Regions from separate parts of the Homo sapiens genome. Here region 2 is linked to region 1. A link means that fine-mapping ties the variant in region 1 to the plasma level of a protein whose gene starts in the linked region. Region 1 holds a variant in brackets. A gene starts in the other region. All regions are shown on their forward strands.

Region 1 (5,338 bases):
CGTGATCTTGGTCCAAGCAACACAAGCCTTTGGGGCCCACTGTTCTCATCCCAGCCCCCATGCTCACCAAGAAGGACGCATTTTGAGAAATGGAAAGTTGCAGCCTCTAAAAATATCTTCTTCTGTCTCACTACCTCCTTCTGACACACGGAGTGGAACCGCCTCTGTTGCCCGGGCCTGTCCCCGGAAGCTGCCCACACAGTCCACGGGCAAGGTGGCCTAGGCTGGGGTCAACCACGGTGGTGTATGTTTTTCTTTCTCCACCAGCCCAGACAGGTAGCTTTTTGGCACCACAAAGTTAAAGGGGAAGGCTGTCCCAGGAATAACTCGTTCTAACTTTGCTAAATGCCAGAGATGTTTCAAGAAAAAGTAGATATGATAAAAACAACAACAACAACAACAAAAACTCTCACCTCGGGATTAAAGGCATGAGATGTTATTTTTCTTGGTCCCCTGAGTCCTAGGGCAGATTGAGGGGATGGTATATGGCACCCAAGGCAGGAGTTGCCTCTGGTGGGGCTTCAAGAGAAGTGAGCAGGGGCTTCTAGCCTCAAACTGCCCACCGCAAGCAAATGTCTCCTAGGCCCAGGCAAAAAGCTGGTCCTGAGCAAACCCTCAAGGGAGGATGTGTGGCCTGAGGTCCTTGGGTCCCCCAACCCAGGAAGAGCATCCATTTAATCACCAGCATTTGGCATTGTAGCTTCCCATCTTTTATGCACCTGCTTTCCTCATCTCCTGGCCTGCCTCTCTCCTGCAGTTTTACAGCCTAATCATATAGCTCACCTCCTTCCTGGGCCTTATCCACATCAGCATCCCACAACCAGTAAGATATAGTTCTTCCTCAAAAAGTCCTGAGGACTCCTGAGGACTATTTATATCATCCTCCCTATTCTGGGATCGGCCCCCATGTTGAGGTAGTTCTTTCTGAAGTCTAACTGCATCCCCTCATGCTGCATTTCTTTGTCATGTAGTGGGGCTTCCTTCTTCCTCCTCACCCTTTTTGCCTTCTTGGGTTCTTTGGTCTCTGTGGTGCTCTCAGTGGTGGCAACAAACTCTGTGTGAAGAAAGAGGGTAGGTTAGCCCTTACTAGCCTCCTTTTCCCAACCCAGATGTGAGACCAATTCTTACTCTCCCCAGGGGCTGAGCATTCCCTTGAGTGAGGGTCATACCTTCTTTTCCTCCGAGGGATGTCTCCTGAGTGATCGAAGAGGCTCCCATGTTGTCATTGGCTCCAAATTCCCTGGAGTTCTCGAAGTCTGACATGCTAATGTCTGTCCTGTAGCTTCTGATTGAAACTCGGTCTGTCCGGGAGGAAGAGGAGTTGGTGTAAGGACAGGGGCTGGGACCTAGAAGGCCAGGCTGGGCTGCTTCTCTCTGGGCGGATCCACTGTAGCCCTGCAGGACAGCTGAGGTGGTGCAGCTCTGACTATGACCCAGGGGGATGGAAATGATCCGAGTCTCCTCCCCAGTCCCTTTTCCTGGGTAATCAGGACTTGGTAATCCCTGATCTTTGTCACTCTGGGACCTTTCAATGCACAGCATCTCCTTTGGTCCTCACATCAGCCCCGTGAGGTCCTGATTATCATCCTTGACTTGAGCCATGAGGAAACTGAGGCATGGCATAAGGATGGCTCAATGTCACACAGCTCATTAGTTATCCAATTAGTCCAAGCCCAGGGTCTCCTGAAACCCAATCTCCTCTTCCTGGCAGCCCTGTCTCTGAACCTAGATCCTGGGTAATTGGAGATGATTTTCCAGTGTTAGTATTTGGACAGCAGCTCTGAATTTCAGTTT[C/T]GAGTATGTGTGGGTTTATCTTTCCCCATCCTGCTTTCTCGGGATCCTTTGTTTTAGCTCATGAAAAAGAAGAGACACAGCAGCTTCCTCTATGGGTGGATGATTCAGGACTGAGGGCTCGGGTTGGAGGTGGGAGGCAGGGAGTATCCCAGGGACTCACCGACGTTCTTCCTGTGCCGGGCTCTGGCCACCCCCACAGCCACGGCTCCCACTGCCAGCACCAGGCCCAGGGGCACCAGGGTGGAGACCAGCGCTCTGGAGCTTCCACCTTGTTCCTCAGAGCTGGAAGAAGGCTTAAGTTAGTTCATCCCTGGAAGGGAGATCTGGGGGCCCGACGATGTGCTGGCAAGGTTGGCTTAGTCCTTTTTCCTCCCAGGTTTATCCACCCCACCCTGCTGATGCAGCTCCCTAGCTCTGTTCTTCTAAGAAGCCTTCCCAGACTGGCAAAGGCACGCACTGGGCCTTGTTGCATCCTAGGCCTGGAAGATTGAACTGAATTGTAAACACCTCCCCAGCCATGGGAGAAGGGCAGAGGGTACCATAGGACCCTCCCACATATAAGCAGAGGTAGTAAGGGCTGCCCCAGTGCTCAAGAGACAGATGGGCTTTCCTCCTTGGACCTGGTGGCCCAGCCTCAGGTGCTCGGCTCTGGGGTGTTCTCCGAGTGGGGAGCCTTGAATCCTTCCTTACCTGCCGGAATCCACAGATGCTCTGCTCCCATCGGCTTGATCTCTTGTATCTGCCACCGCCTTTTCCTCTGCAAAAAGCCTGGGATCCTGAATGGCTTTGTTCTCAATCTCCCGAAAACCAGAGTCTAGCACCTTCTCATCAGGAGCAGCGTCTGCCTTCGCTAGGCTGACATCGCGGGACCCTGCAGCAGGGAAGAGTGGGCCTGGGTTGTGATTTTTCTCTATGCTCTTACTCCTCGAGGTGAAGGAGTCTGGGGGAGACTTCATGAGGAATCACAGGGTCAGGGTTCGATCTCAAGGCTGTTGGGGTAGGACCCAGGATGACATTAGAAACAGCTGTGATGGCCTTCTTCAGCTGTCACAGATGATCTCTGCCCCATTACTACCAAAAGTATAGTGGGGACCTTCAAGGCTTCGTGTCATAGACCAGCTGTGCATAAAGGCTGACCCATCACTTATGCCCGGGAGATTTTCAAGGCTCTGAGACGCTGCCCCAGGCTTCCTGACTGCCCAGCTGGGTATGATAGTGCTGCCCCCTGGAGGTAGCCTGGCGATGGGCCCCTCAGTGAGTCCCATCCGCAGGGTCCAGACCCAATAGGATTTCTTGAGGGACTACAAATACCCTTATTAGGGCTAAAACATTTCATGTGAAATTTTAAAAGGGGACTTGAAATGCAAATTTACTAGATGTTTCCTAATTTTCCTGATCAGACCTTGTAAATGAAGGTATCTGGCCCTCTTTCGAGGGCGAGCTTTGGCAGGGGGAAGGGGGATGAACATATTGCATATGACAGTGATGTATGCATATTATTCTTCTATACAGAGAAGAATATTTCCAGATATAGAAGAGACTTCAATCTGGGTTGAAGTGGCAACTATGGGACTTGTCTTTTTTTTTTTTTTGAAATGGAATCTAGCTCTGTTGCCTAGGCTAGAGTGTGGTGGCACGATCTCAGTTCACTGCAACCCCTGCCTCTTGGGTTCAAGCAATTCTCATGCCTCAGCCACCCAAATAGCTGGGATTACACCACCATGCCCAGCTAATTTTTGTATTTTTAGTAGAGACGAGTTTTCTCCATGTCAGCCAGGCTGGTGTTGAACTCCTGGCCTCAAGTGATCTGCCTACCTCGGCCTCCCAAAGTGCTGGGATTACAGGTGTGAGCCACCACATTCAGCTGGGAGTTGTCTTAATGCCGAGGTTAAATAGCAAACCCACTATTTTTACTTAGTTGGTATGTTTATTTGAGATGTCCCTTTTGAAGGGCTCAACGAGGCTATATAGGACCTAAATGTCCCCTCCCTTCCCACTCTCCACTTTCAGCCTCTTACAGCCAAACATAGGGGCCAGCACTGATTGAGAAGCTCTCAGGCAGGGGCCTTCAGGAAGTCCTGCCTCTGGGTCTGAGGGGTGCAGGCCCTGTCCTTGGAGACTCACCCGCTGCCTTCCTCTCTTCAACTGCCACATAGACGGCTGCAGTCTCTCCATAGAAGTGGCCCTGCTTCACTCCACACCAGTACCAGCCCTCATCAGCCCTGGTCACCAGGTTCAGGGTCAGGGAGACAAGCCGGCTGTTCTCGTCACAGTTCACGAAGGCCTTGCTGGGGCCTTCGTCTTGGCTGGGCAGGGCCTGGCAGCCCGTGTTATTCCACTTGCACCAGTATTTCTCGTACGAGGAGAATTTGCATGGAAAGTGACAGGGGACCTTGAGAGTCTCTCCCAGCACAGCCGTGACATTCCCTGGTACCTTGAGGTTTGGTTCTCCTGGAGGAGGGAGGGAGGTAGAAATAAACACAGAAGTTGGTACTTGGAGATGCTGCAGGGAAGTGACTCTGGTGGGAATCTTTGTCCACATGTCATATACATATATATATATATTTTTGTTTTTGTTTTTGAGACAAGGTCTCTCTCTGTCACCCAGGCTGGAGGGTAGTGGTGCGATCATAGCTCACTGCAGCCTCCATCTCCTGGGCTCAAGCAATCTTCCTGTCTTGGCCTCCCAAGGTGCTGAGATTACAGGCATGCACCACCATGTTCAGTCTACATATCCTCTTTGGATAGCATTAGAAATAAGTATGTTATTCTGACTACAGAAGAAATGTAATTGTGTGCCTAGGTAATAATTATTATTGATGAGCACCATGATCAATCCAGAGTCTACCATAGACCATAGATCTTCACACATGGACTTCAGTTTGCTTTCCTCACTCTTCCTTCTCTTCTAGACTCAATACAAAGAGGTATCTGCAATCCTTGACTTCAGCTGATGCCTGCACACTGCGAAAGAAGCCCATGTTCTTGGTAGTAGGAGGTACCATGTATGGTAATTCAGAGTGTAAGGTGCGTGTTATAGGCATGAAAATGTGACCTCTGGATAGGTGGGCTCCCTCCTGAGGTCTGGCCCATCAGGGTGGAGGCGGGTGAAAAAGGAGGAAGAGTGGTTGGGGATGCTGCTGCTGGCTGGAGAGGTTTTAGAGCTTTCTCCCTCCCTGTCAACTCCTACCTTCGATAATCTTGATCTCCACGGTGGTCCTCCAGAGAGTATCGCCGTTGGTCAGACACCAGTAGAAGCCGGCGTCCCGGCTGGTGAGCTGGTTGAGGATGACAGTGAAGGTGCCGTTGCCTGGCTCCTCCAGCAGGGAGAGGCGGCCCTCGTACTGGGCCTTAACCCACCCCTCGCTGTCCACCAGCAGGGGGCAGCGGCCATTCTGGGCCCCTTCCCAGAGACACCAGTACTTGATGCTTTTGCTTTCCTTACGGTTGTAGGGGCAGAGCACGGCCACAGAGCCTCCTGCCACCCCCTTCACCACAGTGGGGCTGCGGGGAATCGTGGACTCTGGAAGCACAGACAGAGATG
Region 2 (5,384 bases), not on the chromosome of region 1:
GTGGATTTAGGAGCAGTAAAACTATTTCTACTTTATAGTTAAGAAAAAATGGGCACAGAAATGTTGAAAGACAAAATTAGAATGTCTGTTCAGATTAGGTTCTCCAAGCAGTACAAATCCATAAAAAAAAATTGCCTTAAGTTAAAATTTTATTTCTTTCATAGAGACAGCAATCAGAAGTAGACAATCTAGAGCTGTAGAGACTAGAAACCAAAAGTCTTCTATTTTATTGTTCTCCTACCTTTTCTTGCTCCTTCATAATCTAAGACAGCATCAGTCTCTAGTTACATTTACATTCCAGCCAGCAGAGGAAGAAATAACAAAGAATAAAGGACAAGGTATAAAGGAGATTCCTTGAAAGCTGCAACTTAACAATTTGGCCACAGCTTTATCAAGTAGCTACATCTAGCAGTGAGACTAAATAATATAATCTCTATTCCAGGAAGACTCTGTTGTGCTAAGGATTAAGGGTGTTCTTACAAAGAAATAAGAGAAGAGTGAATATCACGTTATGTAACTATCAGTGCATGCCGTGATATGTTTGATGTTCATTTGAGGTTTATTTGTAAGCGTCTAACTTATTTCCTCTTCTATTAATAATTTTTGCATGAGAAGATCCAGATTCTACTATTGACATTATTTCTTTTATATCCTTAACAAATATCTTTCCATCAAGATGTGCTCTTACTTTTTTCCCACTGTATATGGGATTCCAATAACTACTCCACTAGTGGACATAGAAGCAATGTCTAGATCTAGTTCCAGTATAGCTCCTCTTTAAATTCTCATTTGTATTTTGGTCTTCATTTAAAATCTTTCTCTAATATAGTTCAATATTTCTGTTTTATTTAACCTGTAACTGGTCACACTATTACATCAATGACTGTGGTGTGTTACTTTAATTTTTGAGGGCTTATAATAATCTTCTAATATCTGTTATGGAAAGTTTCCTTTCACTATTATTATCCATTATTATTAGAGTTTTTGTATTTTCTTCATAATTTATTTTTTAGGCAAATTTTAGCCTCAGTCCTAAAAATCTTTCCAGAAAGCACATCTAAAAATCCTGTTAATATTTCTCATTTATTGTACAAATTTATAAATTAACATGTTGATAATGTTGAGTCTATTGAGAAACATTGTATGACTTTAAAACTGTTCAATTTTTTTGTAGTCTTAGAGATTTTTCCAAACAGATCTACCATAATTATACATTTATATGTTGGCCCTTTTGTTGACAATAAAATGAGGACTTTTCTTCCATTTTCACCTATTATATTTCCCAATTGCTTTTATATATAAAAGCTATTGATTTATATATAGTAATTTAGTTCTTAACCACTTTAGTAAATTTTTTCTTTGTAGTTACCCTTCTAGTTTATTCTCTTATGTTTTCTGAACACTGTCATATCATCTATAAGGGAAAGTACTAGCACATCTTCATTCTCAATTTTATACCTCTAATTTATTTATCTTTACTAACTTTATTGTTTGGTATCCTCAAAGAAAAGTTAAATGATTATAATGCTGGTGGTCATTTTTATTTTATTTCTGACCTTAAAGGAGTGCTCTTAAGATTTCTCCATTGAGAACAATCTGGCATTTGGTTTTAGAGTAACACATCTTACAGTACATATTCACGTATATATTCTTATAAACATTTAATATACTTTTAAAATTTCCAGAATGATTGCATTCTTGATCTATAGTAGCAATTCCTACCATTCCCTTTTATATTAATATATCTGGAAAATTTATTAATTATCAAATGGCTATTGGGTAAATAATATGACAGGAAAAAAGAGTGGAATCATGCTGTAGGATGTTTAATGTGGACCATGCCAGGAACAAGCAGTACCAGTGACCTACTATGAAGCATATGCATCTAATTGTGTAAATAATTGAGATTTTCAGATGCATTACCTATTAATAAGGCAAGAATTTTTACTATGTGTGAATAAAACTTCAATAACAGTGGTTGAAACAAGAGAGTGGGGTGTTTCTTGCTCAGGTAAAACTCAGATATAGGAATTCAAGGACATCTCATGGCTCCACAGCCCTCTGGGACTCAAGCCACCTCCAGCTTTGCATTCTGTCATCCCTAAGATAGTGCCTTGCGTTTAGGGGTCAGAATTGAATTTCAATCATCACATCAATAATCCAAGCCACAACATGGAGGAAGGGAAGAGGAATTGACATGTGCCCTTCATTTTAGGACATGTTCCAGAAATTGTGGATACTATTTCTATTTATGTCTCTGTGGTCCACACTTAGTCACATGGTTGCTTGTGTAAAGCAAATTGGAAATTTAGCCTTAATTCTGGGAGACCATATTCCCAGCTAAAATTCTACGATTCTTTTACTAATAAAGAATGAAAAATAGATATTAAGAATTAACTAGCAGGTTTTGTTCCAGCAGGCTGACTTTCATTATTGAATTGAGCTAATTAGATATTCTTTAAGCTTCTTTCTTGAAGCAGAACATTGTATTACAACTGGATCACACATATTTTTAGTACACATTTGAAGATTATTATAAATCCTAGTATTTCCATCTCCAGCTATTTAATATTTTCCATGAAATATGTTAAAGTATTTTTATTAGAGGGAAGCATTCTAAAGCCATTTGTGATGTATTTTGTAATCACAATGCAGCCTGGGAAACTTCTGGAAGGTTTTTGTTGATAAATAGTTTTATCTAATACATTATAAACAAGCCTAACCTTGTATTTAGGTTCTGACACAGTATTCTGACGCTGAAGAGTCTGGGAAATTTAATTGTCCTAAATGTTAGCTAATACATCAATTTCTTCTACATTTTCACCCTATCCAGGAAAACAAAAAAGCAAAGTGTTGATATGCTGTGAGGTTAGCAAATATCATGACTTCCTCTTCCATTCTCCAATAAAAGCCCTGCTACGATCGCAATCCCCAGCTCTGGCACAATGGCTTTTCTTCCTTCCTGGGTTTGTGTACTAGTTGGTTCCTTTTCTGCTTCCTTAGCAGGGACTTCCAATCTCTCAGAGACAGAGCCCCCTCTGTGGAAGGAGAGTCCTGGTCAGCTCAGTGACTACAGGGTGGAGAACAGCATGTACATTATTAATCCCTGGGTATACCTTGAGAGAATGGGGATGTATAAAATCATATTGAATCAGACAGCCAGGTATTTTGCAAAATTTGCACCAGATAATGAACAGAATATTTTATGGGGGTTGCCTCTGCAGTATGGCTGGCAATATAGGACAGGTAAGAATGACTCTTGTTTTCATTGTAATGATCTACCGATAGACCTATGAAGTATTTGGGAAATTGGACTCTGTATATACCCTACTATGTTTTTAAAAATTGATTCTTTATCTTGTTCTCTTTTCCCTTATAATCATTGTTTTTCTACCTATCCTTCTCCTTATCCACAAATCCTTCTTTTGTGGGTTGTGTGTTATTATTAGAAGCTTCAATGAGGCATAAGACATAGTTATCAACTGTGAAAAGACATCACATCTCATCTATTGAGCATTTCACAAATATTTGTTGAAGTTCTACTAAGTGCCACACTCCTTTCTAAGCAATGAGATGAACAAAACAGTCAAGGGGATATACAAAGTGATGTCCAATTAGTTTGAATTTCTTGAAGTTCTAATTATGATATGAGGTTATAAAGAAGCATCACATTGTTCATGAAGATCTTTCTCTGTAAAATGTTTGCTTCCTCTTGGAAATAAGGTACCTTACAGTGTATAGACAGAAGTTACATTTTGGGATAAAATATACATGAATTGAAAGATACTTTTGTTCTGGTTGATAGAAGCTCATGAGAAAGAGTGGTGCCTGTTGCCCACTCCCTGCTGATGACACAGCCAATAAAGAAATTATTGTGTGTGAGAGAGAGGTTAAGAAAAGAGCAATTTCATTTGGAAGAAAAACAATGATTATTTTCTAATATTTACATAATGCATATTACAGGTGAAACACCTTTGGTGCTTTTTCTCACCTCACATCACAACCTTATAATGTAGTTAATATTATTATCCCCATGTCATAGATGAGAAAACTAAGGCATTAGAGGTTATTTAGATAAAGTCAAGCTAGTAAGTGGTAGAGCAGGGGTTTGTTTTGACTCTCGACCATCTCTTTTCATCTGTATGCATATTGCTTCATAGTTTCGATTAGAAGGTAGAGGAGGAAATAGAAGAGAGTATCCTTACAAAAGTAAATAATATTTAGGACCTATAACTCAAAAGTAGAAAACTGTGTTGTTAAGGAAAAGGAAAGAAATTAGAAACTAAAAAATAAAAGATAAAAAAAGAATGATGGGAATACAAACACATATCATTCAGAAATAAATGCTTTTGTATCTACAAACAAAATCTATGTGGTTAAGCAATAGTTACAGCCAGTTTCAAAATGCGTATAATAAATACGACTGTGCATCCTCTCTCCTCCAGGCAGATTAGCTGATCCAACCCGAAGGACAAACTGTGGCTATGAATCTGGAGATCATATGTGCATCTCTGTGGACAGTTGGTGGGCTGGTATGTTCGTTTAAGTGGCAAAATAGATATTAACCTTTCCTGAAAGAAAGCATTCAAACCTAAAATCTTAGGGACAGAGACAGAACTAAAATAATCCTGTTCCTATTTTAAAAAGGAATCTATTTCACCGTGTACCTTATGGCCTTTAGGTCACTTTAAGGGATTTAAGAGCCACAATGTCAATAATGATTCCTTAGGACATATCCAGCTTTTCACAGAAGGACGAAAACAAGGTTCTGCAAAAGCAGTGGCCTCTGAGGGGCCAGCTCTGGTAGTTAGGTGGGAGGTCCAACTGATGACAAAGAATCTCCAGAATAAGGAACGATGAGAAGTGAGACATCAAGACAAATGATGCTTTTTCATTTTGCTCAGACCAGATGTGGTTAATATTGAAACCCATAAACATGCCAGAGATTAATACCTACTGCAATTCATTATACCAATCAGTAATCTCAGGCTTTAATCATATACTTAATGCTAAAATAACCAGAAGGTATTTTCTAATTCTTTCATTTAATTTTATGCTTTAGTAATGAAAACAATTTATACCACAAATCCTTAGAGGTATTTCTCAATAGTTAGAAACACGACCACATTAAATTTCACTTTTTCAGGGCAACACACATCATATGTATCCTTAAGCATTTTCCACTTACTACCCCTAGTTCTTTTAAAAGACTCGCGAATAGTAGTGGCCACAGATCTAGAATTCAGAGTTTGTTATTCTTAGATTGGTTTAGTAGTTTGGAGGATTAGCCTGCTACACTGTGGCATAGGATTCCATTCACAAATGCCTGTCTAGGATGAAATATTCTACATCACTGATTTCTAGTGGAAATCAGTATAAGCCTA

Alleles and levels. Alleles are on the strand shown, and positions count from the first base shown. The strength of an association depends on the size of the effect and on how common the allele is.
For the plasma level of the protein whose gene starts at base 2,934 in region 2, allele C in region 1 goes with a lower level than allele T (moderate association).

Evidence for each region. A credible set is the group of variants that fine-mapping cannot tell apart. PIP is the posterior inclusion probability: the model's chance that the variant is causal. The UK Biobank Pharma Proteomics Project read protein levels with antibody pairs (Olink). The fine-mapping took linkage between variants from a reference panel, not from the people measured, so its PIPs are less certain.
Region 2: it holds the start of C6orf58, and the variant in region 1 is the best candidate, but not a certain one, in a credible set for the plasma level of the C6orf58 protein (UK Biobank, PIP 0.55).

The regions. Positions count from the first base shown.
Region 1 is chr1:206,930,502-206,935,839 of GRCh38, forward strand. It overlaps PIGR (polymeric immunoglobulin receptor), which reads right to left. Exons shown (of 11, transcript NM_002644.4): 5 at 4,985-5,317; 6 at 3,919-4,245; 7 at 2,485-2,665; 8 at 1,955-2,076; 9 at 1,170-1,301; 10 at 996-1,054. Among named protein-coding and RNA genes, the nearest start is that of FCMR, 11 kb to the left of the region's middle. RefSeq lists enhancers at 1-337, 1-530. The variant C/T (reference allele first, on the strand shown) is at 1,795.
Region 2 is chr6:127,574,241-127,579,624 of GRCh38, forward strand. C6orf58 (chromosome 6 open reading frame 58) reads left to right here and starts at 2,934. Exons shown (of 6, transcript NM_001010905.3): 1 at 2,934-3,246; 2 at 4,446-4,532. The coding sequence starts at 2,946.